2 separate regions of the Homo sapiens genome follow, and region 1 is linked to region 2. The links come from fine-mapping of genetic effects on gene expression. A gene starts in region 2. The other region holds a variant in brackets. All regions are shown on one strand. Distances are between the middles of the regions. Region 1 holds the start of LOC102724682 (a long non-coding RNA gene). Region 2 holds the start of EVL (Enah/Vasp-like).

Region 1 (16,605 bases), 110 kb before region 2:
GTGAGTATGGGGACTCCGGAAAGTTTCCCTGGCAGAAAGAGAAGGAAATGACCCGGGAGAGCGGGGAGAGAGGCACTGGAGGCTGAGGCCAACACTCACAAAACCCTTTTGAGAGGGAAATTCAAGAGCACAGGGTAGGGGCACAGGAGTCCAGGGCAGTTTGTGAGAGGCAGGGCACGGGGGGCATGTTAAGGGCTTTATTCCAAATCCCAACAGCAAAGGGGGGCCGCTGGTGGGTTAGGCAGGGAAGGGTTCCCACTGCAATTCTGAAAGGGCTTCCAGGCCGGGGGCTGATGGGTGGGGGCTTTACTGTCATCTCAGTGGGCAGTGATGGTGGCGTGGAGTGGGGAGGTGGGAGCACTGTCCCAGAGAGGTTTGTGGGGTGGCGTCGGCAGAGCTCGCAGGTGGAGTGGATGTGGGCGGGGCTGAGTCCAAGGTCCCTGACTGCTTCTCTGGTGGGATGACAGTGCCAAGAGCTAAAATGCAGATCACTGACCGTCTGAAGGAGGGTAGTAAGGCCTGGAACAGGTGAAGCGAGTTGACATCCAACTGCAAGGGCAAAGTAGGCATTCGGCTTTGCAGGCCCAGCACAGACATCCTGTGGGAGGTGGACACGGGAGGCTCTCCCCGGAGGCTGGTTTTGGGAGCCAAGGTGTGCTTGAGATTGTAGGTTGCTCAACCCAGGCCAAAAGAGGCTCCCAAGCCAGCTTGGGGGACTCCAGAATCCAAGGGCAGGTAAGTGGGCTGCCGGAGAGGAGCGAGAGCCAGGAGGGCCATGGTGGAGCAGGAGACAGTCCCACACGTGGAGGATCTTGCGTCTGCAGCAGCAGGGCAGCTCGATGCAGTGCTTGCCAGGAGCCAGTGTGGACTCTGCACTGGCTTAGCAACCGGCATTCCAGCATCTCCATGCGCAGGCAGTGCCAGGCAGGAGATCCAGGCAAGGTGGGGACAGCCTCAGCCACGTAGGGAAGAGAGAACATGAGGCCACGGGTCGCACTGGGCTGTCAGCCCAGTGGGGGCGGGGGGTGTGGAGGTGGAGGAAGCTTCCAGGCCGGTTGGAACTGGGGAGAGGCAAAGTTCAGTGGATTCTTGGCATTGGTAGATCTTAGGTCCTGGCCGCCGGGGTGAGAGGGACTCCCTGGCAGGGGCTGTCTTTGCTTCACTGGAAAGCCCATTCTGGCATCTCCCCAGCCCCCCACATTTTTTTGAATGATTACTCCCACGCCCAAAGGTTGGCTATTCCATTCATTAGCCATCTCTTCTGTGGTTTGGGAACAGGCTGCTGTCATCCTATCTTACAGGCACAGGAGCGCATAGGAAAGGGTAGATGGGGATGGTCCAATCCACAACTAGGGGGACAGGTTTTGGTGAAAAGGAGCTAGGGAACATGCGCTTGATGCAAGGTGAAAACTGACTCCAGACCTGTTCTTCCTGCAGATTCTCTTTTTTAAAAAAAACTTTGGCCAGGCGTGGTGGCTCACGCCTGTAATCCTAGCACTTTGGGAGGCCGAGGCAGCAGATCACCTGAGGTCAGGAGTTTTGAGACCAGCCTGGCCAACATGGTGAAACCCAGTCTCTACTAAAAATACAAATTAGCCGGGTGTGGTGGCACATGCCTGTAATCCCAACTACTTGGGAGGCTGAGGCAGGAGAATCGCTTGAACCCAGGAAGCGGATGTTGCAGTGAGCCGACACCACAACACTGCACTCCAGCCTGGACAACAAGAGCGAAACTCAGTCTGAAAAAAAAAAAAAAAAAACTTTACAGAAAATTTCAAACATACACAAAAGTAGAGAGAGCCTCTCACCCAGACTAAAAATGATCAGCGTACTCACCTGGCAGGGGAGATGCCGTGATCACGAAAGTGGTCTTCCTGGGGTGAGGCTTATCCACTGCACTCCAGACGTGCTGACCCCTGCAATTTCCCCAAAAGTGGGAAACTCGGCTGCGTCATCTGTGGTCATGGGGGCTGTGTTCATGCTTTCCCCTGGTTAAAGAAAAAAAAAATCAAACATTTAGAAAATCTTGTTTCCTCTGTCTCCCCTAACTTTTGGGGGAGATGGAGTTTTTGTTTTTGTTTTTGTATTTTTGAGACAGAGTCTCGCCCTGTTGCCCAGGCTGGAGTGCAATGGCATGATCTCATCTCACTGCAACCTCCGTCTCCCAGGTTCAAGCAATTCTCCTGCCTCTGCCTCCCGAGTAGCTGGGATTACAGGCACGCACCACCACGCCCAGCTAACTTTTTGGTATCTTTAGTAGAGACAGGATTTCACCATGTTGGCCAGGCTGGTCTCAACTCCTGACCTCGTGATCTGCCCACCTCAGCCTCCCAACGTGCTGGGATTACAGGTGTGAGTCACCGTGCCTGGCCAAGATGGAGTATTTTTTAAAACAAGCCTACAGGACTTTGAGACCAGCCTGGGCAATATACCAAGACCTCATCTTTGCAAAAAACTAAAAACTCAGCTGAATGTGGTAGAGTGCACCTGTAGTCCCAGCTACTTCAGGGGCTGAAGAGGGAAGGTCGCTTGACCCCAGGAGGCTGCAGTGAGCTGTGATTGCGCCACTGCACTTCAGCCTGGGTGACAGAGCAAGACTTTGTCTCTAAAAAAAAAAAAAAAAAAAAAAAAAAGCAAGTCTAAGCCACCATGTCGTTTCACCTATAAATACTTCAGTCTGCCGCTGTGGTGAAGACACTTTGTGTGAGGACACCATGACATCATCACAGCTGACAAACTTGATGATTTCAGTTTCTCGGGCTGTCAAGCCTGATGCTGTGTCTCAGAGCCTGGCTGCACAGGAGCCTAGAACAGCTGCCTGGCCTCCCTGCTGAGCAGTTCAGGGTCGGGTGTCGAGCGTGCAGCCCCCAGTTCTGAACCCTTCTCCAGAGCCCAATTCTTCCCCCCTGACCCCGCTGCTCGATGCCTAGTGGCATCCCTGCCCCTCCCCATCTCCTGCAGACGGGATGCTCAGTGCTGTCTGAAACCTGGGCTCCTTCCATCTCCTGCCGGATCCCTGGCTGTGCTTTAGGCCACCTCAGGAGACCCCCTTCTGGGCCAGACAGCCTGGATCTTCCCTACCTTGCTGGCAAGCCAGACCGGACCACAGAAGCCTTTCGGAGTACCAAGTTCCCTCTTGAAGGAAGGAGGCTTGTTTAAGGGGAGCCTCCCCTGCAGGAAGTCCGTGCCCTCCTGGGGCGTTCCAGGGGGTCCGCAGGTCAACTCTAAGTTTCAATAAAAATGGGGCACACGCGCACACCACCCTGCGCTAGGGAGCTGGGGCGGGGCTGCGGGTAGCACACACTTTCTCGCTGACTGCCCCGGATCTCAGGGGACCCCGGCGTGCGGGAAGCCGGAGGGGACGTGAGATTCAGGGGCTCTGGAACACAGGTGACGCCTGGGCTTATAATGCGGGCCAGTTAAGAACAAATTTGGCTATTTAGGCTGAAAACACGAGTAGCTGCTCTAGCAGACTGAATAAGTAATTATGAAAAGACCTTGAACTTGGGTTATAAATTGAAAACCTCCCCTTCCCAAGCCCCCTCCAGCCCCGCGGCCAACTGCAGGTGCGCCACCTGGTGGCAGAAGAGCAGAGCACCGCCCCTCTCTCCAGCTTGCCAGGGCTGATTCTGACCTGGGGAGGGTTGGGGTGTGGAGAGAGAAAGGGAAACTCTAGTTGACTTTCTGGGTGGGGCGTATGTTTCAACTGACCTTCTGAGAGAGCTTTCAGAGGTTCTTGGAGAACCCCAACGTTGCTGATCGCCTCTCAGCTGCAGTCCCCTGGACCTGAATGAAGGTGTTCTGTTTAGGTGCGGCCTCCTTCTGCAGCCCTGAAGCACCGGGAGGGCTGCCTCCATCGGCCTCCTTCCTGCGGAGATCCCACCGCCCTCCGGGGAAGCCCGCTAGACAGGATCTTAGACGACCTTGCTTGGATCCTTGCTTGGAGGTTCACATCTGGTCTCAGGGGACACTTGTGCCTCCCACACCCACACCTTGCACCAGTGGGTGGGCAGTTACTGCCTTCCACATGCAGCCTTCTCTGGGCAGCTGGCGCTTTTGAGGCACTGGTCCACAAATCGCAGATGGCACACCTCAAGCCCTCCAAGTGGCTTAGGCAGAAGTACCCTCCCTGGTCCTCCCTCAGGAGAAGCAGGGTTGGAATCAGCAGCTCAACTTTCTCCCAAAGAAATCCTCCTTGCAAATATTACTTCTGAAAATGTCTAATTCCCAACGCTTTAGTACTCTTATCGTGGATGAGGATGCCCAGGAGGTGTCTCGGGAACCTCTTTTGTAACTGCTGCTCATGGTCTAACAGTGCCTCTGGAAGACACATCTATTGGATCTTGGCTCCTCGGCTGAACGCTCATTTCAACATCCAGTTACATAACCACAAACATTATTGCACAAGTTTTTTGTACATGTTTGCAAGAAATTATCTGGGATCCTACCTGGAAATGGGACTACTGATTTTCTGGGGCATGCATTAAATATTGCCAAACCATTCTCCACAGCAGCTCCACTGGCAGCCTGGGAGTCTCTGTTGCTCCACTTCCTCATCCATATTAGGAATTGTCATTTCATCTCATCTCATACAGACCCGAGAAGCAGGATCCATCGCCCCTCTTTGAAGAGAAGAAAGAGGGTATATTAGGCTGTTCTTAAACTGCTATAAAGAAATACCTGAAGGCCGGGTGCGGTGGCTCATGCCTGTAATGCCAGCACTTTGGGAGGCCGAGGCAAGCAGATCACTTGATGTTAGGAGTTCCAGACCAGCCTGGCCATGGTGAAACCCTGTCTCTATAAAAAATACAAAAAAATTAGCTGTGCATGGTGACCCATGCCTGTAATCCCAGCTACTTGGGAGGCAGAGGTGGGAGAATGGCTTGAACCTAGGAGGCAGAGGTCGCAATGAGCCGAGATCACCCCACTGCACTTCTGCCTGAGCAACAGAGTGAGACTCCGTTAAAAAAAAAAAAAAAAAAAGAAAGAAAGAAAGAAAAGAAGAGAAAGAAAGAAAAGGAAATACTCGAGACTGGGTAATTTATAAAGACAAGATGGCTGGGCATGGTGGCTCACACCAGTAATCCCAGCACTGTGGGAGGCCGAGGTGGATGGATCATTTGAGGTCAGGAGTTCGAGACCAGCCTGGCTGAAATGGTGAAACCCTGCCACTACTAAAATTACAAAAATTAGCTGGGCATGGCCAGGCACGGTGGCTCACGCCTGTAATCCCAGCACTTTGGTAGGCCAAGGCAGGTAGATCACGAGGTCAGGAGTTCGAGACCAGTCTGGCCAATATGGTGAAACCCCATCTCTACTAAAAATACAAAACTTAGCCAGGCACGGTGGAGCGCACCTGTAGTCCCAGCTACTCGGGAGGCTGAGGCAGGAGAATCGCTTGAACCTGGGAAGTGGAGGTTGCAGTGAGCTGAGATCATGCCACTGCACTCCAGCCTGGGCGACAGAGCAAGACTCTGTCTCAAGAAAAAAAAAAGAAAAGACGTTTAACGGGCTTATGGTTCTGCAGGCTGTACAGGAAACACGGTGCCAGCATCTGCTTGGATTCTGGGGAGGCCTCAAAGCAAAGAGCTTTTATTCAAGGCAGAATGTGAAGTGGGAGCAGACAGTTCGCATGGCAAAAGCAGGAGCAAGAGACAGCGGAGAGGAGCAGGTGCCACATGCTTTTAAACAACCAGATCTTGCAAGAACTCACTTGCTATCACGAGGAAGCACCAAGGGGATGGTACTAAAACATGAGAAGTCCACCCCCGTGATCCAGCCACCTCCCGTCAGGCCCCACCCCCGTGATCCAGCCACCTCCCGTCAGGCCCCACCCCCGTGATCCAGCCACCTCCCGTCAGGCCCCACCCCCGTGATCCAGCCACCTCCCGTCAGGCCCCACCCCCGTGATCCAGCCACCTCCCGTCAGGCCCCACCCCCGTGATCCAACCACCTCCCGTCAGGCCCCACCCCCGTGATCCAGCCACCTCCCGTCAGGCCCCACCTCCAACACTGGGGATTCCCATTCAACATGAGACTTAGCAGGAGCACATAGCCAGTGTATCAGAGGGTTAGAGAGACTGAGGTACTTGCCCCAGGTCACTCAGTAAGTTGGTAACAGAGCTAAGGGTGGAACTCCCAGTTCTCACAGCTACATTCTGTGCTGGCGTTCTCAGCCTGGTGTCTTCAGAGCATTATTAGAGTGGGTGCTGCTAGAGTTTCAAATAATTTGAGACTGTGCTGCACACTGCACATGACAGAGAGAGATGTGAGCGCCAGTTGCCTCTGAAAGGCATAGGAAGGTTATACATTTGGGCATTTCCCCATCTCGAGCATCAGACACCTTTGCTCCTAAGGCATTAGTGATTGGCCCAGGGATCAATGTTCCACACATCCATCTTGGGAAATGCTGTGGGAGAAGGTTAATCATACAGAGGTGGCCCGGCATGGTGGCTCATGCCTGGAATCCCAGCACTTTGGGAGGCGGAGGCAGGCGGATCACCTGAGGTCAGGAGTTCGAGAGCAGCCTGGCCAACATGGTGAAACCCCATCTCTACTAAAAATACAAAAATTAGCCGAGCGTGGTGGCGGGTGCCTGTAATCCCAGATACTTGGGAGGTTGAGGCAGGTGAATCGCTTGAACCCGGGAGGCGGACGTTGCAGGGAGCCCAGACTGCATCACTGCACTCCAGGCTGGGTGACAGAGTGAGACTCCATCCCTGCCCCGCACCCCCCAACCCCCGCAAAAAAAGAATGTGGTTATAACATTTCAGCTTATAACATTGGGACGATTCCTCCCTCCTTACCAGGACCGAACTAGGAAATGGCCAGACTTCCTGTCATGGTAAGACTGATGTCACATGCTCAGTGACATTTCTGAGATTCTTTTGGCCAAATGGGCTTCAGAATCACTTAGGTTCTCCCAGGCCCTCAGACTGTGGCGACTGAAAATAGAATGGACTGTGATCACCACCACACTGCCCAGCTGCCCCTTGACGCCCATGGGGTTCCTCTGCACGGGGTTCCCCTGTTTTCATGTGGCTTATTTTACTCTGATTCACACAGAGGAGGCAGGTTTAGAAACACAGCATCCGTTTGTCTGCATTTAAAACAATCCTTGGGAGAAGCAGGCAGCAGCCCTGTAGTCCTGGCCACAGTGGCAGCTGAGGTAGCCCCTCCTCACCTTCAATCACTGCTCCTCCATTTGAAAGCATTCTCAGAAACTGATGCTACAGGAAAGGCCTCTACCTTGTTCTGGCAAGTTCCCTCCTGCACTTCTTTCCCAGGCTGAGGCAGCTCCAGGGCTCAGACGTCAGCCAGAAGTAGGGGAGGGAGAGGACTCAGCCAGACATAGGGATCTGGGGTCCAGAGGGCAGCCGCACAGCCACCACGCTCGTCTGCCATGCTCGTGATACCTGCCCACCCCATAGCAGAGATGTTTCTGTTAACCACTTATAGAATGGTGGGGCTGCAGTGACGCTCAGGGGTCGTCTTGGGGGAGCATCTCCCAAAGTATGTTCTGTGAAACCCAATTCCAAAGCATGTTAATAGCCCCTGTGTTGGGGAGGCACTGAGCTAGACGCATTAATATGCCCTGTGAGTCGAGAAGGGCTATTGTGTTCATCTATTCACCCAACAAACACCACCCCTACCCTGAGGCAGCACATCCTAGGGGCCGGGGATACCAGAGTTCTTGCTCTCATGGAACTGTGAATGGAGAAAGCAATGAAGAGGCTGAGGAGACTGTTCCCGCTGGAGATGGGCGGGGAGGGGCCGGTAGTCACAAGGGCTACTTAAGCCCAGGCACGCAGAGGAGGTGGCTTTTGAGCAGAGAGTGTGGTGACAGAATAAGGGCCTGAGACTTGCAGCCAGCTGGGGACACCCCTGGCTGAAGATACCAGGGCATGGTGTGAGAGTGCCAGGTCCCCGAGGCTGTCTAACTGCACAGCTTCTCCTTCCTGGGACATCACTGCTAGGCCAGAGACTCAGCACACCTCGGGGGAAAGGCTCTTTTGCCCACTCCCTCTTTTTAAAGGCAGAATCAAAGCCCTTTGGAGAACAGGGATTTACCCAAGGTTGCTGTGACCTTAGCTCGGGCAGCCCCCAGCTGCCCACCTTTGCTTCTTTTTAGAAAATGAAGGTTAATGTGCTTTAAATCATAAAACT[C/A]ATCCAGACTCATTATAGCAAATTCAGAAAGAAGCCCAGCCATATCACTACCACCCTGAAATAGCACTATTACTTCTGAGCACATTTCCTTCCTGTATTTCTTTTTCGAGTAGTTTTGGATGTGTTTCCATAGTTAACATATTGCATATACAATGCTTTCTATTGCTTTTTTCATGTAGCTTTATAGGCATTTTCCCATGTCATTATAACTTTGTTATAAATAACTCCTATCAGCTGCATAACATGATGCCATAATCTATATCACTGCTCCTTGACAGTCTTCTCATATTGAAGATTGTGATGGTGATGATGATGGTGGTGGTGGTGGTGCTGATGATGGCAGTGATGGTAATGGTGATAATGTTGATGCCAATGATGTGGTGATGCTGGTGATCATGGTGGTGATAATGGTGGAGATGGTTACGGCGTGATAGTGATGATGATGGTTGTGATGTTTCATGGTGGTGGTGATGGTGGTGATGCTGCTGCTAGTGGTGATGGTGATGATGAAGGTGATGGTGATGTTGATGATCATGGTGATGATGATGATGGTGATTGTGGTGGTGACGATGATTGTGATGCTGAGGTGATGGTGATGGTGGTGATGCTGATGATGGTGGTGATGATGATGATTGTGATGCTGAGGTGATGATGGTGATAGTGATGGTGATGATGATGAGGATGATTGTGATGCTGACATGATGGTGATGGTGGTGATAGTGATGGTGATGATGATGATGATTGTGATGCTGAGGTGATGGTGATGGTGATGGCGGTGTTAGTGGTGGTGATAGTGGTGGTGATGCTGAGGTGATGGTGATGGTGATGGTGGTGATGCTGATGATTGTGGTGATGATGGTGGTGATGCTGATGGTGGTGATGATGGTAATGATGATGGTGGTGATACTGTTGTGAACTCCCAAAGTTTGAAACAGGTTTCAGTTAATTTAGAAAGTTTATTTTGCCAAGGTTCAGGACACACCCGTGACACAGCCTCAGGAAGTCCTGACAACATGTGCCAAGGTGGTCAGGGCACAGCTTGGTTTTATACATTTTAGGGAGACATGAGACGTCAATGAATATATGTAAGAATTACATTAGTTCCATGCAAAAAGGCAGAGACAACTAAAAGCAACCCCCCCACCCCTTCCCTTCCAGGTCACAGGTAGGTGAGAGACAGATGGTTGCATTCTTTTGAGTTTCTGATAAGTCTTTCCAAAGGAGGCAATCAGAATATGCATGTATCTCTGTGAGCAGAGGGATGACTTTGAATAGAATGAGAGGCAGATTTGTCCTGAGCGGTTCCCAGCTTGAAGGGGCCCAAGATATTTTCCTTTCACACTGGTGATCATGGTGGTGATGGTGGTGATGGTGGTGATGGTGATGGTGGTGGTAATGATGGTGATAATGATGATAATAAAAAATACTAAAGGCCACCCTTACTGAATGCCATTTCTCCACAGTGTACTTGTGCTTTATATGCTCCTTCCATCAACATTTAGACAGGCTCAAATATTTCCTGTTAGAAAAAAACCTTCCTGGTCCATCCCTTTGCCACAGAGCTCTCTCGGGGCCCTCTTCTCTTCTCCCTCCACCTTCTCCCCAGGTTATCTCATCAGCTCCCTGGGGCCAGCCGCCTCTTCAACCCTTACAAGGTCCCAATCACTATCTTTGACTCAGCCTGTCTCCTAGCTTCAAACCTCTGTGTTCAACATCCTGCAGGATGTCTCCATCTGCTCATTCACTGGAGCCTCCATCTCTACATGCTCAAACCCAATTCATCCACTTCTCCCCCAAAAACCCGCATGCCATCCTCCCAGTGGCCCATGCCAGGCATGTGGGTGTTCCTCTTGCCTGTATCAGCAAGCAGCCAATAAGTGACAACCTCGATAGCATCACTCAGCGAGCTCTTACCCACCCCTTGCCAGGTACTGTTGGAGGTGCCTTATGCATGACGGCTCCTTCAACACTCTCAACAGCCCTGTGAGAGGGTCACACAGTGAAACAATTGGGATTTTAACCCATGTAGTCAGGTTTCCAAGATCACACTCAACCACAGCACCATTCTGCCTCTTCCAGAATCGAGGGCTCTGCTCCATGAGGAGCCAGGGCACGTGTCCACGTCATCTCTCCACGGATGCTGCCTATGCCCTGGAGGGCCACCATCACTGCTGGCCTGGCTGCAGCCATGTTGACCTTCCTCCAGGCAGTCTGAGTGACCTTTCCAAACCATAAATCTGACCATATCACTCTCCTGCTTAAAAATTCTTAGGAAAAAGCTCCTTCATGTTACACACAGGACCGGTCAGTGAGCTCTGGTTCCTCTCCAGCACCATCTCTCAGCTCCTGCCACAGAGCTTTTCTCTGTCCAACCACCACGGCAGCCTCTCGTTGCCACCTGGTCTTTGCTCATGCTCTGTGCCCCCAACCCTCTTCCTCTCATCATTCTGGCCAACCACCATAACTTTCAGAACTCAGCTCAAAAGTCACTTCCAGCAGGGCACAGTGGCTCACACCTGTAATCCCAGCACTCTAGGAGGGCAGGGCCAGTGGATCATCTGAGGTCAGGAGTTCGAGACCAACCTGACCAACATGGTGACACCCCGTCTCTACTAAAAATACAAAAATTAGCCGGGCATGGTGGCAGGCACCTGTAGTCCCAGCTACTCAGGAGGCCGAGGCAGGAGAATCCCTTGAACCCAGGAGGCGGAGGTGGCAGTGCGCCAAGATTGCACCACTGCACTCCAGTGTGGGCGACAGAGCAAGACTCCGTCTCAAAAAAAAATAAAAAGTCACTTATTCCGAGAAGGCTTCCCTGAGTGCCAAGGCTGGTTCTTGTCCCTCCTCTGTGTCCCCACCTCTGTTGTACTTCCCTTCTCATGCTGAATTGTGGGTGTAGGTTTATGTGCCTCCAGCCTTTCTGCCAATCAGCACCCTAAGGTGGAAGCACTCTGCATCTCGGGCACTCTTCTTTCCCATCACCTAGCACAGTGCCTGGTGCCCACATGTTATCAGAAGTGTTTGGTGAATACATGAAGGAGTGGACTGTGAGCCTCTGAACTTGCAGTACCCTTTGCCCTTCACACTTCACCCTGAGCATCTTTTCTTGCTTTGGGTGTTTTGCTATGGCAGAGGAGACTGCAGTGAGCAGCTGTCCACTGAGCTTTTCTTTTAGTTAAATTTATTTCTTTGAGGCAAATGCCCAGAAGTGGAATTACTGAGTTAGCAGGCAAGATCATCTTTATGTCTTCTGATATGTTTTGCAAAAATGAATTCCAAAATTATGGTAGCAATTTGGTAGATTTTTTTCTTTTTTAGCAACCTAATCCTCTCTCCCTTTTTAAGTGTCTTCCTGGCGGAAGCCACACAAAGCTATTTTTACCTAAAGGCTGTAAACCTCATCATTCTCCAAGGAGAAAGTCGGGCATGTGTGAGGAAGCTATCTACCCACCTCACAGGCTCATCAGCCCTATGCTCTTGCCAAGCTCTAGGTCATTTTGGAAAAGCAAGTTGAAATTATATTCCAAATTAGGCAGTGGTTTTGCGAAAGAAGGAACACACACACACACACACACACACACACACACACACACACACACGTCACACACATATTCATCTCCATTTCGGGGCTAAATTATGAACATCTTTATCACTCAAAGAAACCAGAAAGTTATCAAAGCAAAACCAGTGAACTTTGCCAGGTGAATGTTACGAAGTTTGGACGTGGAAGTAGCTCGGAAGTTGGGGGATCACCTGGTTTTCACACTTTGTTTCAACAGTGTGATGGTTAATTTCATGTGTCAACTTGACTAGGCTAAGGGATGCCCAGAGAGCTGGTCAAACCTTCTTTCTGGTGGTGTTTGCGAGTGTCTCCAGAAGAGAATCAGTAGACTAAGGAAGCTTGATCTCACCAATGCGGGGGTAGGGTGGGGGGGCTGGGGGGTCATCATCCAACTTGTTGAGAACCTGAACAGAACAAAAAGGTAGAGGAAGGGCGAACTTTCTCTCTCTGTTTGACATCTACTAGGACATCAATCTTCTCCTGCCCCAGAACGTTGAAGCTCCTGGTTCTCAGGCCTTTGGACCTGGACTGGGATTCCCACCACCAGCTCCCCTTGTTCTTAGGCCTTCAAATGTGAACTGGAACCACACCACCCGCTTTCCTGGGCCACCAGTTTGCAGATGGCTGATCATGGGACATCTCAGCCTCCATAATCGCATAAGCCAATCCCCCATAATAAATCTCTTTCTATTTGTCTATACACTATACATCCTATTGGCTCTGTTTCTCTGAAGAACCCTGACTAATACCAGCAGCAAAACCTTTTTTCAGATGAAATCATACAAGAAAATCCACTCTGTAATAAGGTTAAGAATGGGGCTGCTCTGGCAGAAGCAGTCAGAGGTGGTGGTGACTCAGAAGCACTCTCACCCTATCTTGTTCCTTCCTCCTCCCTAACACCCCCTGCCCTGGCCACCTCCACCTGCCCCACGGGGCTCCAGAGTCTGCCATCTTGGAGCGGCCTCTGGAGGAAACAGAGGCTCAGGGAGAGGAAGGACCTGCCCAAATCCCCACAGTGAAGGGTGGCAGAGCGGGGTCTACCTGCCGGGCTCCTGGCTCAGTCTTGGGATGGTTCTCAACTATTGTCTTGACAGGAGCCTGCTCAGTTATTCACAGTTACAATGCACATCTTTTCAAGGACGGCCCGAGGTGGCTGGTTTCCCCCAGTGGTTAACCACCCAGGTGCCCCCAGGTATAGTTTGGTTTTAAAATTCTTCCAATTTAAGTTCCCCTATTACCAACATTTCTACTTACTTGATTTTTAAGAAAATCACCCATTGCATGTAGAACAGGTGGACATTTATTGAAATGCAACTGCAATAACATCCCCTGGAAATTAACTTCCTCTCATTTGCCCCTGTGAGTCTGTCTCATTTCTCATTCCTTCTGTTCTGTGCTTTTTTTTCTCTTTTATTTCTTGCACATTGTGAGTTTTCAATTTTTTTTTGAAGAAGCATATTTTAATTTTATTTTTCAGTATTTCAGTTATCTAATTCACTATTTTCAGCTTTTATCTTTATTCATTTCCTCCTCATAATTTCTTTTTATTTATTTTGCTGGGTTTTTTTGTTCTGTTTTGTGTGTTTGTTTGTTTTTTGAGATACAGTGTCATTCTGTCTCCCAGGCTGGAGTGCAGAGGCAGGATCTCGGCTCACTGCAACCTCCGCCTCCCATGCTCCAGCAGTTCTCCTGCCTCAGCCTCCCGAATAGCTGGGATTACAGGCACCCACCACCACACCCGGCTAATTTTTGTATTTTTAGTAGAGACGGGGTGTCACCATGTTAGCCAGGCTGGTTTTGAACTCTTGACCTCAAATGATCCGCCCACCTCAGCCTCCCAAAGTGCTGGGATTACAGGCATGAGCCACTGCGCCCGGCCTATTTTGTTGTGTTTTAAGTTGAATATTTAATTCACTTATATATGTATTGCTTGTTTTGCTTTTTTATTTTTATTTTATTTTGAGACGGAGTCTTGCTCTGTCACCCAGGCTGGAGTACAGTGGCACTATCTCAGCTCACTGCAACCTCCACCTCCTGAGTTCAAGCGATTCTCCTGCCTCAGCCTCCCAAGTAGTTGGTATTACAGGCGCCTGCCACCACGCCTGGCTAATTTTTGTATTTTTAGTAGAGATAGGGTTTCACCATGTTGGCCAGGCTGGTCTCGAACTCCTGACCTCAGGTGATCCGCCCTCCTCTGCCTCCCAAAGTGCTAAGATTCCAGATGTGAGCCACCACGTCCAGCCTTGGTTTTTTTTTTGTTTTTTTTTTTTTTTGAGACAGGGTTTCACTCCCATCACCTAGGCTGGAGTGCAATGGCGCAATCTCAGCTCACTACAACCTCCGCCTCCTGGGCTCTAGCGATTCGCCTGCCTCAGCCTCCTCAGTAGCTGGGATTACAAGCATGTGCCACCACGCCCAGCTAATTTTTGTATTTTTAGTAGAGATGGGGTTTCGCCATCTTGGCCAGGCTGGTCTTGAATTCCTGACGTCAAATGATCCACCTGCCTCAGCCTCCCTAAGCACTGAGATTACAGGCGTGAGCCAGCACGCCTGGTCCATTTATATACATTCTTTGTTGTATAATAATAAAAGCATTTAAGGTATCACTGTATCCCATAAGTGTTGCTCTGAAGTTTTCTCCTTTTCATTAATTTCTTTTTAATTTGTAGTTTTAACATTGATTTCTTTCTTTTTTTTTTTTTTATTTAAATTGAGACCAGGTCTCATTCTGTCATCCAGGCTGGAGTGCAGTGGCGTGATCACAGCTCACTGCAGCCTTGACCTCCCAAGGCTCAGGGAATCCTCCCACCTCAGCCTCCCGAGTAGCTGAGACTACAGGTGCGCACCACCACGCCCAGTTAATTTTTGTATTTCTTGTAGAGACAGGGTTTTGCCATGTTGCCCAGGCTGGTCTCAAACTCCTGGGCTCAAGTGATCATCCTGCCTCAGCCTCCCAAAGTGCTGGGATTATAGGCGTAAGCCACCACGCCTGGCCGATTTCTTCTTTAAGCTAAAACTTACCTATAATAGAAGAGTATTTTATACTTCTAATGTTTTATTATGTTTTTATGGTTATCTGGGGTTTTTTTTTTTTTGCACTCCAGTGAAATTTCTGAACTCTAAGGATAACATTCTGTATATAAGTAATCTGTTTGTTCTGCCAGAAGCTGATATCAGATTACTTATGTACAGAATGTTCCCCTTACATCCACCCCAATATGCCCAAACCTAATGCCTGTGAATATGTAGGTTACATGGCAAAGGGGAATTAAGGTTTCAGGTAGAATGAAGGTTGCTAATCGGATGACCTTAAAATAGGGTGATTATCATGGATCATTACACTGGCAGCCACTGGGGCCAATGTCATCACAAGGGTCCCTAACAGTGGAAGACAGAGGCACAGGAGGTCAGAGGGAGACACGACTGCCGACAAAAGGTCAGCGATGCCATGTGAGAGAGACTTAACCCCCGCGGCTGGCTTTGAAGAGGGCCCCATTCTAAGGGGCCACGAGCCCAAGAATATGGGCAGCCTCTGAGAGAAGGTGGAAGAGGCAAATAAACTCACCCAGAGCCTCCAGAAGAATGCAGCCCTACTGGCACCTTGGCTTTAGCCCAGAGAGACTTTTGAGCTCTGGAACCGTAAGATAATAAAAATGTGTGTTGTTTGAAGCCACTCTGCTGTTGGTAACTTATGTTAGCAATAGGAAACTGATATGATATGTGAAAAAGGGACTCCAACTGGTTACCAGGTTTCTTTCTTTCTCTTTCTTCCTTTCTTTCTTGACAGAGTCTCGCTCTGTCGCCCAGGCTGGAGTGCAGTGGCGCAATCTCGGCTCACTGCAAACTCCACCTCCCGGGTTCACGCCATTCTCCTGCCTCAGCCTCCCGAGTAGCTGGGACTACAGCCACCCACCACCATGCCTGGCTAATTTTTTGTATTTTTAGTAGAGACGGGGTTTCACCGTGTTAGTCAGGATGGTCTCGATCTCCTGACATTGTGATCCGCCCTCCTCGGCCTCCCAAAGTGCTGGGATTACAGGCGTGAGCCACCACGCCTGCCCTTCCTTCCTTCCTTCCTTCCTTCCTTCCTTCCTTCCTTCCTTTCTTTCTTCCTTTCTTTCTTTTTTTCTTTCTTTCTCTCTTTCTTTCTCTTTCTTTCTTTCCTTCTTTCTTCTTTCTTTCTTTTCTTTTTTTTTTAAGACAGGGTTTCGCTCTGTTGCCCAAGCTGGAGTGCAGTGGCTCAATCTTGGCTCACTGCAGCTTCGACCTCCTGGACTCAAGCAATCCTCCTACCTTAGCCTCCCAAGTAGCTGGGACTACAGGCACCTGCCATCATGCCCAGCTGATTTTTGTATTTTTTTGTAGAGACAGCATCTAGCCATGTTGCCCAGGCTGCTCTCAAACTCCTGGGCTCAAGTGATTCCCCTGCCTCAGCCTCCAAAAGTGTTGGGATGATAGGCATGAGCCACTGTGCCCAGCCGACTACCAGATTTCTTATCTGCATTTGAAACTAGAAGTTTCTAGACCTGAGAAAAGGGGACTGCTAGCCTAAAATCTCCTGGCTAAGATATCATTCACGTGGGAGGGCAAAATGAGGGCATTTCTACCAGAAGTGGTTCAGGTGTGTGTCTTTCTAAACTAATCCTCTCTGATACCTCCTGAGCTGTTTTTTTTTTTAAAATAGCTTTATTGAGATATAATTTACAGGCCATAAAATTCCCCCACTTAAGGTGTGCCATTCAATGCTTTTAGTACCTTCACAGAGTTGTGCAGCCATCACCACTATCTAATTTTAGAACATTTTCCCCACCCACACCCCCTTGGCAGTGTATTCATTTGCTCGGGCTGCCATAACAAAATGCCGCAGACTGTGGTTA
Region 2 (16,605 bases):
CTCATTGTTTTACCCTAGCTGAGGTGTAGAAGTCTGGTCTGATTTTTGTTCCTTTGTAGGTGACTTGGTTTTATGTGGAAAGCTTTTAGAATTGTCTGTCTCTGCTGTACTTAGATATCGTAATCAGTGTTTGTGTCTGTATGTGTGCATGTGCACACTTACGTTGTTGTCTTTTTTCTTTTTTCTTTTTCTTTCTCTTTTTCTTTTGGAGACGGAGTCTTGCTCTGTCACCAGACTGGAGTGCAATGGCTCGATCTCGGCTCACCACAACCTCTGCCTCCTGGGTTCAAGCCATTCTCCTGTCTCAGCATCCCGAGTAGCTGGGATTACAGGTGCATGCCACCACACCCTGCTAATTTTTGTATTTTTAGTAGAGACAAGGTTTCACCATGTTGGCCGGGCTGGTCTCGAACTCCTGACCTCACGATCCGCCCACCTCGGCCTCCCAAAGTGCTGGGATTACAGGCGTGAGCCACCGCGCCTGGCCCACGTTGTTTTCGTATCAGTTCTGTTTGGAACGCTGTTGACCCTTTCAGTCTTGAGCTCTTACATCTTTCTTGAATTCTATAAAATTATCTGTCATTTCATCTTTTTTTTAATTTTTTTTTTGCTTCTGAGATGCCTTTTACTTCTGTAGTCCCTGTCCCTTTTTCCCTACCTGATGTTTTTGGGTCAACTCTTTGACCCTATTCTAAGTTTCTCATCTTTGCCTCTTCTGCTGAGCATACTTACTGAGTTCTCTATTTCAGCAATTATATTTTTATACTAAAAAAAAAATTGCTTGGTTGTTCTTCCTTATGGCTTACTCTCACTTAATGTTTTAAGTATCTTCCCTTGTGTCTCCAAAGACATTTATTATACCTATTGGATTTTTAAATTCTGTTTCCCATGGTAGAGGTTGCTTCATTTGTTATCTGTCTTTTAAGTTTTTCTTTTATGCTACTTGCATTTCTCAGAGATGTTATAATTTCCTCCTGGAAATTAGTAATGATGTCCGTAGAATATTCAGTTGCCTTGGCTAGCACATGTGGTCTACTTCTGCTGCGGATGAGTTTAACCAGGAGTGTGGTTGGAAGGGAGTACCTCAGGGCAGGGTGGCCTGATATTGGAGGCTAGACTCAGCAAACTCTAAGCTTGAAAAAACGAGGCCCTATCTGTCCCCTTTTCATATCACTAGTAATTTGTGCACTTCTTGAGTCCCAGTCCTTTCAGGCAAAATAGCTTAACAAAGATTCTGAACACACACCATGTACCAAGAATTGGGCTGCCCACAATTGATTATAAAAGATGAATAAAAAATGATAGTCCCTTCCTAAAGGGTAATGCTCTGTGACCACTAAATAGATAAAATTTCAAAATACAGAAGTAGCACAGCAGCAGGAATAATTTTCTCTATCCTGGGGGCTCAGTAAACACTTCATTAAAGAAGATACAGGCAAATTGGATCTTGAAGGACAAACCCAAGTTTGCCTGTAGATGGGGTAAGAGGTTGTTTCAGGAGGTGAGGACAACTGTGTTTACAAGGCACAGGAGCCTGAACCACCAGGGCATGTGCTAGAAACTAGATTTCCCACTCCCAGGAGTCCAGTGGTGGGATTTTTACCTTTCCCCTTTACTTCTCCCTTTATATGATGAAAGATGTATATGGAGAAAGATTATATGTAGCATAGTGTCCTCATGAACACCAAGTCCACGGAAGTCTAAGGTCACAGATATCGGTGAAGAGCCATATTACAGTCCCCCTAAGAGACTGCTCAGCTGACATCGGGGTTTCTTTATTTGGCCATTCACACTTTCTTTCCAGATGCTGTAACTCTGGAAATAAAACATTTTCTGAGGACAAGTCTCAGATCATCAGAAAAATGATTTGGAGTTTGTTTTTTTTTTAATCTGAGTTTGTTGTTCTTCATGTCTTCCCTCTGGTATAAGAAACAGTTGGACTTCACAGAGCAGGCAGGCTTAGGCAGGCCCTATCAGCAAGAGCTGGAACTGAACTGTGAGTGAACTGGAAAGGAAAAGGCAACTTTTAGCGTCTTGTGGCTGGCTGAGCTATTTTAGTGTAAACTTTTTAAAGAAATGTCTCTCAGGCAAAGTGGTTGAGAATACCAGAATCTCTGGCAGATCCAATTTCCATTTTGGTTTTTGGAGCCATAGTTGAGGTTCTAGGAGTCAAATAATGATAGCACATATAAAATATTATATTTAAAAAGCCTAATGCAGCATTGTTAATAGGATTTCATAATGTGTTAGAGACTGTAACTAATTTTGGGTAGCCATTTCTCTGTCCTCCTTTTCTCTACTCCCAGGACACAAGGGCTTTGTACTCAAAACACCCTGCCTTCTTAACACAAATTCTCATGAAATGTCATTATTATACAAACATAATTCATTTCTTGTTAGTGAAAGACCCTTTCATTCACAAACATCCCAATGAGAAAGAAAGAGAAGTGAGGTTAGTCTGTTTACAGAAAAGAAAACTAAAATCCACAGAAGAAAGTTGACTTTCCCAAGTCACCACAGCAAGTTTTTGAACTAGATCTCCTAAGTAGAGTGTCTTCTAGTATAGCTCTGTGATTTATTTTCAGCCCACTCTGCCTTCTCTTGGAGTCTGGACACATGGAAAGCACATCTTTTAATTCAAGTCAACACAGTTGTTGTTTATTGAGCATTTACTGTTTTCAAAATCCAAAGCCAAATGCCTTAGGATTTAATATCAGTATCCTGTGTGAGTGTTGATGCCCGTCTTCCTCATTCATTCATTCATTCATGTATTCATCTATGCATAGTTATTCATATGATCACCACTTACACTGTACCTACTACCTAAGCAGTATACCAGGTGCTGAGCGCAATTCATGGTTTCACATTATAAGATGCTACCTCAAACAGGATACGTTTCTTAACTTGCTCACTAAATTGCGTCACAAGTGCCAACAGTTCCTATTCTATCTTTCCAACATTTTCTATTGCCCTGACATGAACGATTTAGGAATTGGTACCACTCCTGCAGTACATGGTTATTTATAAGATCATTTTTTTTTTCATCGGACCTGGAGACACCAGGGTCAAAGTAGAGACCTGAATGCCCAGGAACATACAGCATGTCAATAACAAAGCAAGGGTTGGAATCCCTATCTCATAGCACCCTACTCAGAAAGCTTGCCACATTTTTTGCTTCTTTTCATAATTCTTCTCAAGTGCTTCATTAAAGCTAGATGATAGAGTTAAAATAGTACTCTATTTTATCTACGTACGTGTAATTGGAGTGCCAAAAGGTTCACTCTTACCTGTTACCTACCTAGTGAAACTGATAAAAGACAGTAGTAACGTGTGAAGGACAGAGGAAATGAGGGGTGAAACTGAAAGGCACTTCTCACAGAAAAGATGTTTACTCTTAGGCTAGCATCTTCAGAAAATGAAAAAGAATACCCTTTGGTAGTTTAATAATCATATTTGACTTCTGCCTCTGGCCATGGCAGAATAATGGTAATGACTTGCTCTCTTGACAAAAGCAACTATGAAACTGTGTAAAATATGTGAAGCAACTGAATATACAAAGGGTACTGAGACTCATAGAAGATATTAAATCCCTGCCATTTTCAGACATTGGACAGATAAGATAGGACTTTGATTCTTGAGAGAAGAAACACCATGAGAAGCCCCTGGCTTTCTGCCTGCAGTCACTATCTAGTCTTGGCATGGAGTGGTGGAGCCCAAATGGAAAGGTGATTTTAGTCAGCTCAGTGGGCAGAAATTAGAATTCTACGCCACTGAAATAGTTGGACTTTGCAGGGCAAGGAACTAGAGAAATGGAAGCCCTGTGACAGGGCAAAGACAGCAGAGTTCTGTGTAAGGATTCTATTTGGATTGTTGGCTGAGGGCTGGGTGTGCATGTACAGAGTGAGATTCTTCATGAGGCCTGGCAGAGATCGCCTGCTGTAGGGCTGAGAGCTGAATGATGATGCCAGAGGTCATTCAGTTCTGGGAGATGTTGCAGATCCGGCTTAACCTGAATGAAGAAACCGCCCAGAACACCTCAGGCATTCAGTTGAGATCCCAGAACTGTCACACTTTAGGAGTAGGACTGTGCTCTTGAGTCAGATGGGGGGGTGGTTGCAGAGGAGGGGGATACCCTAGGGCTAAGTTCAAAATGGAAATAGAACTGAAGAAAGGTTTGAACCAAGCTTGGTAGCACCAAAAGGATCTGCCAGTAATTTCCCTGACTACCAGAACAGACTTCACATCTTTAAAGAAAGATAGCATAATCCAGACTTTCTGCAATGTATCATACAGTATCTAACATACAATCATAAGTTAGTAGACATATAGAGTCAGAAAATATGACATATACTTAAGGGGAAAAAAGCAGTCAGTAGACCCTGAAATGCTCCTGAAGTTGAAACGAGCAGGCAAGTTCTTCAAATTACCCATAATAAATATGTTCACAGACTTTAAGTAAAAGGTGGATAAAGTGAACAAACAGGAAATCCCAAAGGAGAAATGGAAATTATAAAAAACTTGCCCAGTGCCGGGCGCGGTGGCTCACGCCTGTAATCCCAGCACTTTGGGAGGCCGAGGCGGGCGGATCACGAGGTCAGGAGATCGAGACCATCCTGGCTAACACAGTGAAACCCCGTCTCTACTAAAAAATACAAAAAATTAGCCGGGCGTGGTGGCGGGCGCCTGTAGTCCCAGCTACGCGGGAGGCTGAGGCAGGAGAATGGCGTGAACCCGGGAGGCGGAGCTTGCAGTGAGCCGAGATCGCGCCACTGCACTCCAGCCTGGGCGACAGAGCGAGACTCCGTCTCAAAAAAAAAAAAAAAAAACTTGCCCAGTGAAAATTCTACTACTGGAAATGAAATGAAAAATTTACTGGATGAGACTAAAAGTGGATCAGAGATCCAGAAGAAAGGGTAGTGGACTTGGAGACAGATCAATAGATATCTAATCTGAAAAATGGGAAAATATTTTAAAAAGAATTACCAGTGCCTTGTGATAATATCAGGAGGTCTACATACGTGTAATTGGAGTGCCAGAGGAAGAGGAGAAAGAGAATGAGGCAGAAGAAAAATAATTGAGGAAATAATGACCAGAATTTCCCAAATTTGGTGAAAAGCCTTAAATTACATACCTAAGAATCTCAGTGAAACCCTAGCAAAATGAATGCAAAAAGAACCACACCTAAACCCATCAAAGTCACACTGCTGAAAACGAAAGAAAAAGAAAATATTAAAAATGACCAAAGGAAAAGGGATCCATTGCATACATTATATGTGAATGATGGCTGACTTCTCAGAAACCATGGAGGCCAGAAGACAATGAAACAATACCTTTAAAGTGCTGAAAGACAAAAAAAAAAAAAAAACCTCAGTATTCTCTATTCACAAAAAGTGCTTTGAAGCTTGAAGACAAAGATGTTTTTCAGATAAAAGAAAACTAAGAGAATGTATTGCCAACTTACCTGTTGTACAGAAAATCCTAAAGGAGGCCAGGCATGGTGGCTCACGCCTGTAATCCCAGCCCTTTCGGAGGCTGAGGTGGACGGATCCCTTGAGACCAGGAGTTTGAGACCAGCCAGGGCAACATGTTGAAACCCTTCTCTACAAAAAATACAAAAATTACAAAATACAAAAAATACAAAAATACACCAGACATGGTGGCACATGTCCTTAGTCCCAGCTACTCAGAAGGCTGAGGCAGGAGGATCATTTGAGCCTGGGAGGCAGAGGTTGCAGTGAGCTGAGATCACCCAGCTTGGGTGACAGAGCAAGACCCTGTCTCAAAAAAAAAAAAAAAAAAAAAAAAAAAAGAAATGCTAAAGGAAGTTCCTCAGGCTGCAAAAAAAAAAAAAAAAAAAAAGATACCAGGAAATTCAAGTGCTCGGGGATGGATAAAGATTACCAGAAAAGAGAAATATATGAGTAAACCTAAAGACTTTTATTTCTTCAATACACGCACACACGCACATGACTTGAACAATCCCGGGGTTAGGGTACTGGCCCCTCGAACAGTTGAAAATCCACCTAAACTTTTGCATCCCCCAAAATTTTAGCTATTAAGAGCCTGTTGTTGACAGGAAGCCCTACCAATAACATAAGCAGTTGGTTAATACATACTTTGTATATTATGTGTATTATACACTGTATTCTTATAATTAAGCTAGAGAAAAAATTTTATTAAAATCATAGGTGAAAATATGTTTTCATTAGTTTCACTAGTCATTAATTGGAAATGGATTATCTTAAAGTTCTTCATCCTTGTCATCTTCACATTGAATAGGCTGAGGAGCAAGAGGAAAAGGAGGGGTTGGTCTTGCTGTCTCGGGGTGGCAGAGGTAAAAGAAATTCCATGTGCAAGTGGACCTGGGTCAGGCATGGTGGTAGCTCATGCCTGTAGTCCTAGCACTTTGGGAGGCTGAGATGGGAGGATTGCTTGAGCCCAGGAAGTTGAGGCTGCAGTGAGCTGTAATCATACCACTGTACGCCGGCCTACGCAACAGAGTGAGACCACATCTCAAAAAAAGAAATAGTAGTATAATGGACCTGTGAAGGTCAAACCTGTGCTGTTCAAGAGTCAGCTGTGTGTATATATATATATATGTATATATATATATATGACTGTCCAAAACAAAAATATGTAACATTGTATTTTGAGTAACATATGACAGCTACACCATAAAGGATGGGAATGGAGAATGAAATTATGCAATTATGAAGTTCTTAACATTTTACTGAAGTGGTACAATATTAACTCTAAGTGTACCCTACAAAGTTAAGAATGTATATTGTAATCCCTAGAAAGACCTCTAAAAAAAAAAGAGGTATAGCTAAAAAGTCAATAGAGAAATTCAAATGGAATTCTGAAAAGTATTTAGTTTACCCACAAGAATACAGGAAACGAAGAACAGAGGAACCAGAAACAGATGAGACAAACAGAAAACAAATAGCAAAGTAGTAGACCTGTATCCATCTACATCAATAAACTAAATGTAAATAGACTAAATACCCCAATTAAAAGATAGAAATTGTCAGACTGGGTGAAAATGCAAGACTCAGTCATACACTACCTATAGGACATACTTTAAATACAAAGATACAAATCGACTGAAAGTGAAAGGATGGGTAGTAGGCAGAGTAATGCCATCACCCCGCCGTAATCCCTAGAACCTGTGACTGTGTGACTTTACATGGGATGGGCATGGTGACTCATGCCTGTAATCCTAGCACTTTGGGGGCCAAGGCAGGAGGATCACTTGAGGCCAGGAGTTTGAGATCAGCCTCGGAAACATAGCAAGACCCCATCTCTATTTAAAAAACTGTTTTCAAATTAGCCAGGCATGATGGTGTGTGCCTATAGTCCTAACTACTCAGGAAGCTGAGGTAAGGAGGATCACTTGAGCCAGGAGTTTGAGGCTGCAGTGAACTATGATCACACCACTGCATTTCAGCCTGGGTGACAGCAAGAGACCCTGCCTCTAAAAAAGTAAATAAATAAAATGTTACCTTACATGGCAAAAAGGACTCTGCAGACGTGATTAAAGTTGTGGACCTTGAGATGGAGCGGTTATCTTGGATTATCCATTGGGTCCAGTCTAATCACACGAGTCCTTAAAAGTAGAGAACCTGTCCACACCGCGGTCAGAAAGAGATGTCACTGTGGAAGAAGGGTCGGAGCACTGCTGCGTGCTTTGAAAGTGGACAGAGGGGCTATGAGAAAGCAATGCAGTCAGTGTCCAGAAGCTGAGAGAGGTGAGCAAGAGAGACCTATGTGGAACTTCTGATGATGTTGGGCTTCTGACCTCCTATCATCTTACAAAACTCTAAGATAATAAGTGTGTGTTGTTATAAGCCACTCAGTTTGTGGTAATTTGTTACAGCAGCCGCAGAAAACCAATGCTGCATGGAAAAATGTACCTAACAAGAGCTTCAAGAAATAGTGACAGAATTAAAGAGGGAAATCCACAGTCACAGTTGAAGATTTCAGGACCTTTCCCTCAGCAGTTGATAGAATAATTAGACAAAAACAAACAACAGCAACAAAAAGTAACAAGGACGTAGACGTTCTGAACAATACTATTAACCACCATGACCTAATTGACATTCTAGAACACTGCACCCGACCAGTTTCAGAATACACATTCTTTCCTTGTGCATATGCTACATCCGCCAAGGTAGACTGCATGCTGGGCCATAACGCACATTTTGATAAATGTGAAAGGATTGAGATCATACCAGGAAAAACAAAGGAAGAAGTCACACCAAATATGTTCTCTGGCCCCAGTAGAATTAAATTGGAAATAGGTAGCAACAGATATAGGAAAACACCAAATATTTCAAAATTTAACGAAGCACTTATCAATAATCCATGGATAAAAGAAGAAATCACTAGAGAAAATTAAAAATATTTTGAACCAAAAGAAAAAAGAAAACTGCAATACATCCAAACTGTGGTTTGCAACTAAAACAGTGCTTAAAGGGAAATGTATATCATTAAAAGCCTTTTAAAATGCATTTTTAGCATTCAAAGTGCATTCATCTCTCCAATTAGAACTGATACTTCTTTTGTACTGTACTCTGTACAGCTGTTTTTCACTATATCAATAATATTTTAATGGATCTATTAAATATTTGCTAACATTATCAACCTCTTCTTTTCTAAACCATAAAAGTCCTTTAAGGACAAGTACAGTCGTTCTCAATTTTTTGTCTGTGATTTCTAACACAGTGCATGCTTCTTAGTGAGTTCTCAGTAGATTTTGAAAGAAAGATTGGACTGGATCTTACCTTCATGAGAACCCTGTGGAGATAGGCAAAATAAGTATAACCCCATTTTACAGTTGAGGCCACCCACTTAATAAACAAGTGACAAAGCCAAGTTTCCAGTATTCCTCAAGTGTTTTCCTTTCAGGCTCTAAATTGCTGACTTAAATGTCATCATTAGAGAGAGTTGTCTCCTCGGTAGAAGTACAAATTTTGTTCCAGAGTCAAATATGAAGACTTGATCAGTGGCCTGGCGCGGTGGCTCACGCCTGTAATCTCAGCACTTTGGGAGGCCAAGGCAGGCGGATCACCTGAGGTCGGGAGTTCGTGACCAGCCTGACCAACATGGAGAAACCCCGTCTCTACTAAAAATACAAAATTAGCTGGGCATGGTGGCACATGCCTATAATCCCAGCTACTCAGGAGGCTGAGGCAGGAGAATCGCTTGAACCCAGGAAGCTGTGGTGGCGGTGAGCCAAGATCGTGCCATTGCACTCCAGCCTGGGTGACAGGAGTGTGAAACTCTGTCTCAAAAAAGAAAAAAAGACTTGATCAGCTTATAGCCTTTATCATCTAGTCTTCTATTCTCTGGAGAGTCAGTGGGGACTCTTCCGAGTTCTTGTAGCCTTTTCTTAAGGCCTATAGGAAGTCATCTGTGCTGAGCCTGCACTTTCTATAACAGATGGAAAACTGAAGCTCAGACATCTTAAGTGGCATTGACTTAGACTATAGAGCTAGTTAGTGGGGGGCCAGCACCATGACCTGGCCCCTACCTCCAGCAGGCTTCACCCACCCTTGCACCCTTGCAGGAAGCACTTAGAGGCTTGAGGTTGCCAGCTGTGGGGGGTTGGGCCTGTGCAGTGCCTCTCAGCCGCCCACGCTGGTGGGGCTCTGCAGTGTTAGCTTCTTGTTTCTCTATTTTCTACCTAGGTTTCAGTTTTTCACTTGGGTTTGTTTCCCCTTTGTCTCTGGTTCAGCTTCCTTTTCCTGTTTGGTTTTAAGTAGGCTATAAAAATCAAGTTGCTGTCTTCAGAGGGTCTGTGGTCCTCTGATCAACATAGGCTGGTGGGAGTACAGGACTCGCCTCCTCAGGGTTCCCTGTGCTGCCACTTTTCAGCCATGGCCACAAGGTGAGTATTGGAACCAGTGCAGGGGACAGAGGGATGTCAAGAGGAAACCTAGAATCTTAACGGTGAATGGGCTGTAGAAATTATCTCAGGTCCCCTTAGTATACTGATCGAGAAGTCCATGACCAGAGGGCAGGGGGCTTACATGAGGTTACACAGCAGGTTAGTGACAGTCTGCTCCCTCTCTAGCCGCTGGTCTTTCCATTACACAGGCCTGTGTCTCTTGATGCCTGTGACCTTTAATGGCTTCTGAGTCAAGGACTTACTTAGAAATTAGCACCTGCCTCTCATTATAGGGAGGAGGGTCTGAGCCATCTAGGGGAATTGTTGTTTAGCTCAGAGGTACATTTGGTGAGTCCTGGCCCTTCTCTCTAGAATGACCCGAGACTGGTTGTTTTTTCTAAATATAGGCAGAGAGGGTTCTTTTTATGATAGGAACTTCATGAACTTAATAGCAAGAGTCCTGACCCTCCACTTGAGAGACTTGTGGACTTAGGCTATTGCTGTTGAGCACATGTGTGAATACCAGCCAGTCTACAAACCGCACTCCTCATTGAGATTGTTCTCTCTAAAGGTGAGATTACATTTTGGACCTGCCTCTCCCCTGCCCTACAACTCTGAAAGATTATAGATGATAGGACAGACAGACTTTTATCCTGTGGGGTTTGGGGCATTTGTTTGATTGACTCATGACAGCTTTGTTTTTTAGCATAAAGTAACAATCCCTCACTTTGAAAATTATTTCACAATTTCCAAAGTGCCATTTCGCCAGTTTTCTTATTTGAATCTTTTAGCCGTGTTAGATTGATGAGAACGCTGTCATCACTCCTGTTTCGTAGCTGAGAAAACCTCTGAAAAGTTGTGGGGTTTGTCCAAGGTCACATGGCAGGTTGGGGAAGGAATGGAACCAGGGTTTAACGAGGTTGGCCTCATCCGGTGGTTTTCGCAGCACGCTACACAGGCACAGAAGCAGCTTGCAGTGAGTTGTTAAAATTGACGTGGTGATAGGTAGAACTTGTCCAGGGCTGCTTATTTTCCAGTTGGCTTTATTTCTGATCCTGTCATTTTAGTAACTTTCCTTTAACTTTAGAGGACTCGTGAGTGGAGCTTTAGAAAACAGAATGCTTTTCATTTCAAAGGCATATCAACTTCCAAAGTCATTTTCAGTTGTAAATTACATTGTGAAAACTTCTAGCAGCTTATTCTACCGTGTCAATTACTAATTGCAGAAAATTATATCAAAAGTAAATGAGGCACAGCAATTTCTTTTTCAATTTTAAAATCGTAGAAATCCTAGAAATTTCCATCTTGAAAAGACCTTGGAGGTGATCTACAGTAGATAAGATGTTTTGGGCACCTTATTCTCCACTTCAGCCAAAATAACTCTGCTTTTATGTTTTCTATGTATTCCTTGATAATTCATTGAGAAAAAACAGTCATTGTTGGTGGTGGTGATGACTTTCAAGTCTGAAGATTACACTAATCTAGCCCAGCTCTTGAGTGCGCAGATCAGGAAATTGAGGCCCAGTGTGGAGCAGAATTTGTGTACGGGGAGCGGAGTAGTGGCTGAACCAAAGCAAAAGCCCAGGTTTTCTGGTGCGTCCCTCCCCCGTACAAGGCTGCTTGCACTCTGCCACAGGTCCCTGGCCTGGCACCATAGTGACAGTCCTGGTGGAAGCAGCGTTCGTGGAGCTGCAAGGTCAGCAGCCATAGGAGCTGTGAACTTTTCGTTTTTCCTCATGCTGACTGACACATGGGGATACCGTGGCGCCTGTGGTGGGGATACAAAGGACCTTTTAAATGTGAAAATATATCTTACCAGCTCTAGCTCTGGCTACCCACCAATCAAGAAACAGTTTCCAAGCCCTGACTGGATTAGGAGCTGGGAATTCTCTTGAGTGCATGACAACGTACAGAATGCTTTCACTGACGTTATTTAGTTATCGCAATAATCCTGAAGGTAGTGTTGTGGGGCGTTTTTGTTTTTGTATTTTTTAGAGATGAGGTCTTGCTTTATTGCCCAGGCTGGCCTCAAACTCCCGGGCTCGAGCAAGCCTCCTGCCTCAGCGGGACTACAGGTGTGGGCCACCACACCCAGCTAGCATTGTTTTTATTGTTTCTGTTTCACAGGAGAGAGTAACTTGACAAGAGACATAGCCAGTGAGTGATAGACCCAGGACTTGAACCTGTGCCTCCTGACCACAGATGCTTTGCCCTTTTGCTCTTACGCCTGAATTAGAGCTGCCTCTGTCCTCAGGGACTGGTAGGGAGTGAGGAAGACAGCACTCACAGAAATGAGGAGGCGACTGGCTGTGAGGACCCTGCAGCACAGAGAGTAATAAGCATAGACAGGAGGGGCAGTAAGAGTTGAGAAGTTGGGGACTGTCAGGGAAGACCTCAAAGAGAAAGTGGGATCTCAGGTGAACTTTGAAGAATAGGGATGATTTTTTAGAAGGCACTGGCAGGCATCACAGGCAACCAGTCACCCAGCGGCTGCTCTGGGTGCTAGGGACACAGTGGTAAACAAGACAGGCAGTCTTGTCCTCAAACTGAGGGCAGAGTCGGGAGGCAGAATATAGTCAAGAAACCATCAACAAGAGACGTGAAAACAATAGAGCAGTGTGGTAGAGAGTGACTGGGCCACGCCTTAGGGGACATGTGGGGACATGAGGCAGCCATGCTAAAATCTGAAGGTTTTGGGGTGGAAAGGGCAGCAAGTATCCTCAGCTGGGGACGAGGCCCTGAGATAGGAATGGTTTGGTGGGTTCAAGGGTCAAGAAAAATACAGAGGCTGGAGCAACATGAAGAAGGAAGAGTGAAGGCAAATAAGGGCACAGAAGGCTTTATCAGGCCCAACGGCAAAGCCTGCGAGCTGTGCTGAATTTAGCGCGTATGTCAGAATTTAGTTAGGGGAAGCCTTTGGAGGGAGGGTTTGAAGCAAAGGGAAAGACATCTCATAGAAGCTTAAGAAAATCACTCTGGGCCCTGTGTGGATAATGGCTGGCAGTGTGGCAAGAATGGAGGCAGGATGACCTCTTGGGAGGCTACCGCAGTCATCCAGGTAAGAGGTGAGGGTGGTTTGGGCCAGCAGTGGAGCAGTCAGGGTAGGCGGTGAGAAGTCACCAGATTCAGGAAGTGCCGTGGTGCTGTAGCCTCCAGGACTATCTGGTGGATCACACATGGGCGTGGGGGAAACATGAGTCAGACATGGCTTAGGTGGGTGGTGATTCCTTTCACCACGCTGGGGCAGCTGGGGTGCTAGCTGGAAGAATCTGTAGAGGTGTGGGCCTAGCAGCACAGGTTCCCAGGAAATGTGGGTTGAACAAGGCTGACCTGAGCAGGAAGTAGCTGAGGTCGCGGTGCAGCAGCAGGAAACGTGATATGGATGTGTGATATGTCTGCCACTTTTGGGGCCAGCCAGTTAATTTCGTTTCCTTCCCTGGTCTCTCTGTTGTCTTTGGTAGGCTGTGGGTTTTTCCGAAGCACGTACTATCTTCTAACGTATTATAGAACTTACTTGTTCTACTGTATACTGTCTTTACCCCTCAAGAATGTAAACTCCCAGAAGGCAGGGATTTTCGCCTATTTTGTTCAGTGGTGTATCCCCAGTGCCTAAAACATTGCCTGGCAATACACATTTATTGAACTGCTGGATTTAATTAACTACTTTGATATATGGTCCTAAAGATTCCTGTGCTACCAAAGTTGCTACTCAGTGGAGCTTCCTGGTGTGGCATGTTAGAGAAGAGACCAGAAAAACAGACATTTCACTTGCTGTCAGGTAGTGAAGGAGCTGTGGCTGCTTGGGCACAGTCATTACTGTTTATTCCACTGTGCTGCACATCTTGAAGCTGTAAAGATATAAGAAGTCTCGCACAGCCGGGGTTCAGCTTACAATCCTTCGCACCTAATTGTACGCCTTTGTGTGAGGGTTTGGAGGAGTCTCCAGGAACACCTGGTGTTTCCTTTCTCACAGGTATTTCCAGTCCTCACGGGCAAGTCAGAGAGTCCCAGAGGCAATTGAACAAGCCCTCAGAGATCACGTAGTCCGTTCACTCTCCATGGGAACCCGCACTTCCCTAGAGACCTGTAGCCAAATCATTTGGAGAGCTTCTGAAGCTTCTCTGCCTTCCTCTGTCTCAAAGAATCCCATGTGCCTCTAGTTGAGAAACATTCCTCTGGAGATTCTAGGTTATTCTCATGAGAATGTTACGATACTCAGGTGGGCTGGGGCAGAAAATGGATGAGAACTAGTGTAGTCCAATGGCTTTGCTTTGGTAACTGAACCCACAGAGGAGGAAAATAACAACAGCTCAGCTTTTCTCAGTGTTATACACCAACCATTACGCTAGTTACATGATATACATACTATTTAATTCTCATCCTTTGAGGTCTGGTATCACTATTGCCACTTTACAGATAAGAAAACAAGGGTTGGCCGGGTATGGTGGCTCACTCCTGTAATCCCAACACTTTGAGAGGCCAACGCAGGTAGATCACCTGAGCTGAGGAGTTCAAGACCAGCCTAGGCATCATAGTAAGACCTCCTCTCTTAAAAAAAAAAAAAAAAAGAAAGAAAGAAAATAAAATTAAAAAATGAAAATTAGCCAGATGTGATAGTGCATGCCTGAAGCCTATAGTCCCAACTTCTCAGGAGGCTGAGGTGGGAGGATTGCTTGAGCCCAGCAGTTCAAGCCTGCAGTGAGCTGTGATCACACTACTGCACTCCACCCTGGTGACAGAGCAAGACCCTACCTCAAAAAGAAAAGAAAACAAGGGCCTACAAAGTATCGTATTCCAGGTCACATTGTTGTCACTTGACGGAGCTTTTGATCTCTGAGAGGATCAAAATCTGCCCTCTCAGCTTTAACTTCTCAAAGCTAAACTTGTCCCAATTTGCAGAGTCAAGGGTAGAATCGAGGCCCTCCTGATCTCTATTTTGCAGTCTCCGTCATTCTGTGCTGTTAATACCACAAGAGACAAAAGAGACCTCGTCTGTCCTGTAGCACCCCGTGCCTGCGTGCGTATCTCTTGTCGATGCTCTGTCGGCTCAGGATCTCTCCTACCAGCCTAGAGCTCTTTCAGAGCAGGACGCTTGTGTTATGCATTCATGTTTGTCCCTGTGCCTAGTAAATAGCACAGAGTCCAAGTGGCTACTTGTGTCTTCAGGGGTGTTTGTAAGGGCAGAGCCGGGGTCTTCATTCCCAGGCTGTTGATTCATCCTTGGAGCTGAACATACTGTCCCAATCCTTGGCCCAAGCCAGGCCTCTACAGTTGTCCCAAGGCTGTGCTAAAACCTGTTCCACTTCACAAGTGATCAGAGTCACAGACTCTGGGGACACAAATTTTGAGATGAAGACACAGAGCAAAATATATAAATGTTTTTGAGGTTTGAGTAGCCTTAACGTCCACGTGGCTGTCAGATGGCTCCCCAAAGAAAGGGCTACGCCGGTGGCCTTGAAAGAGTATGGGAGATGCATATGAGACAGGGTCAGTCTAGGAATGTCAGACTCCCCCAACAGTTGGTTGGAGTGTTTTTCCAGATTGCACCAGACTTCACAGAGTAATGGAGACCAGCTGTCCAGGCATCTGAGAGGGTGACATCCAAGGAGAAAAGGCAAACGTCTTGATTGCCCATGATGTGGGCAACCAATTTGGATAGAAAAGAAGGTGTCAGGGTTTAACACTGAATGTAGACTTTATTTACCCAAAGCCTTTCTTTAATTCTAACACTCTCAAAAATGGGGCTCAGTCACCATTTGGGTTTCCCATGTTAATATGCAGAGAGCTAATTCATTGTCTTTCATTGCTGTAATGCAGCAGTTCTCAAAATGTACTCCAGAGATTGACCCTCCTAGGAGTCTGTAGATCAGAACTGTATTTATAATATTACTAAGACATCATTTGCCATTTCAGCTCTTGTCTCATGAATTCATGGTGGAATTTTCCAGAGCTATGTGATGTTTTGACATCATCACTGTGGCAGCTAATGAAATGTCTGCTTGTATATTCTTGTGTTTTAAAAAATTATTAGTTTTAATTTCAAATAAGGTGAATATGGATAGACTTAACCTACATAAAACAGAAGCTTTTTGGCATCCTCAATAATTGAGTGTAAAGGGGTTCTCTTGACCAAAAAAGTTTGAGAACTATGTGTGTAAAATAGTCAGTTGTATGGCTGCACTACAGACAGCAAGCATGGAATTGAAAATACCACCTGCAAGGTGGCGGTTCCCCCTGGTAGAGAGGAGGGGCTCTGGGTCTGGGAGGAGGATGCAGGCGTCACTTGAACTAAACAGCTTTATGACTTGCTGTCAGATTTCCTAGACTGTGTGGTGGGATCGTGGGAACCTACTTCTCACAGGCCTGAAGTACTTCACAATAAACATTTTAAGTCTACTTCATAGCATGAAACCTGTTTCACACCTGTGCCCATTAAGAAAAAAAAATGGCACCCTATAAATGATTTAATAATTACTAAGGGGAAAATATAGCTTTCCATTGGAGATCTGGCAGTCACCTCTTAACCAACCTACAGTCTACATTCAGTTGGCCTGAATTCTTCACACACACAACATCTTTATCAATGAAAAATTTTTAAATAGTTTCACATCCTAGCTTAGCTTGAAAGGGAGTAAGCAGACGGCTCGATCAAATGTAATCCATGAGCAGATCCTACATCCCAAAAAATCAGAAACATTTTGTAAAAATTGGGTAAC

Evidence for each region.
Region 1: its variant is fine-mapped to the expression of EVL in lung (TOPMed, PIP above 0.99). The same link has a PIP of 0.9 or more in aorta, pancreas, prostate, stomach and thyroid.

Annotation. Positions count from the first base shown.
Region 1 is chr14:99,943,487-99,960,091 of GRCh38, forward strand. It overlaps LOC102724682 (a long non-coding RNA gene), which reads right to left and starts at 5,815. Exons shown (of 6, transcript XR_007064328.1): 1 at 5,714-5,815; 2 at 4,449-4,622; 3 at 1,837-1,988; 4 at 497-1,061. It also overlaps the pseudogene RNU1-47P. RefSeq lists enhancers at 2,627-3,555, 7,054-7,555. The variant C/A (reference allele first, on the strand shown) is at 8,167.
Region 2 is chr14:100,055,623-100,072,227 of GRCh38, forward strand. EVL (Enah/Vasp-like) reads left to right here and starts at 9,800. Exons shown (of 14, transcript NM_016337.3): 1 at 9,800-9,889. The coding sequence starts at 9,879. It overlaps LOC124903379 (a long non-coding RNA gene), which reads right to left and starts at 8,422. Exons shown (of 2, transcript XR_007064329.1): 1 at 7,508-8,422. RefSeq lists enhancers at 9,274-9,323, 9,674-9,763, 9,814-9,893, 9,944-10,083, 10,464-10,543 and 6 more.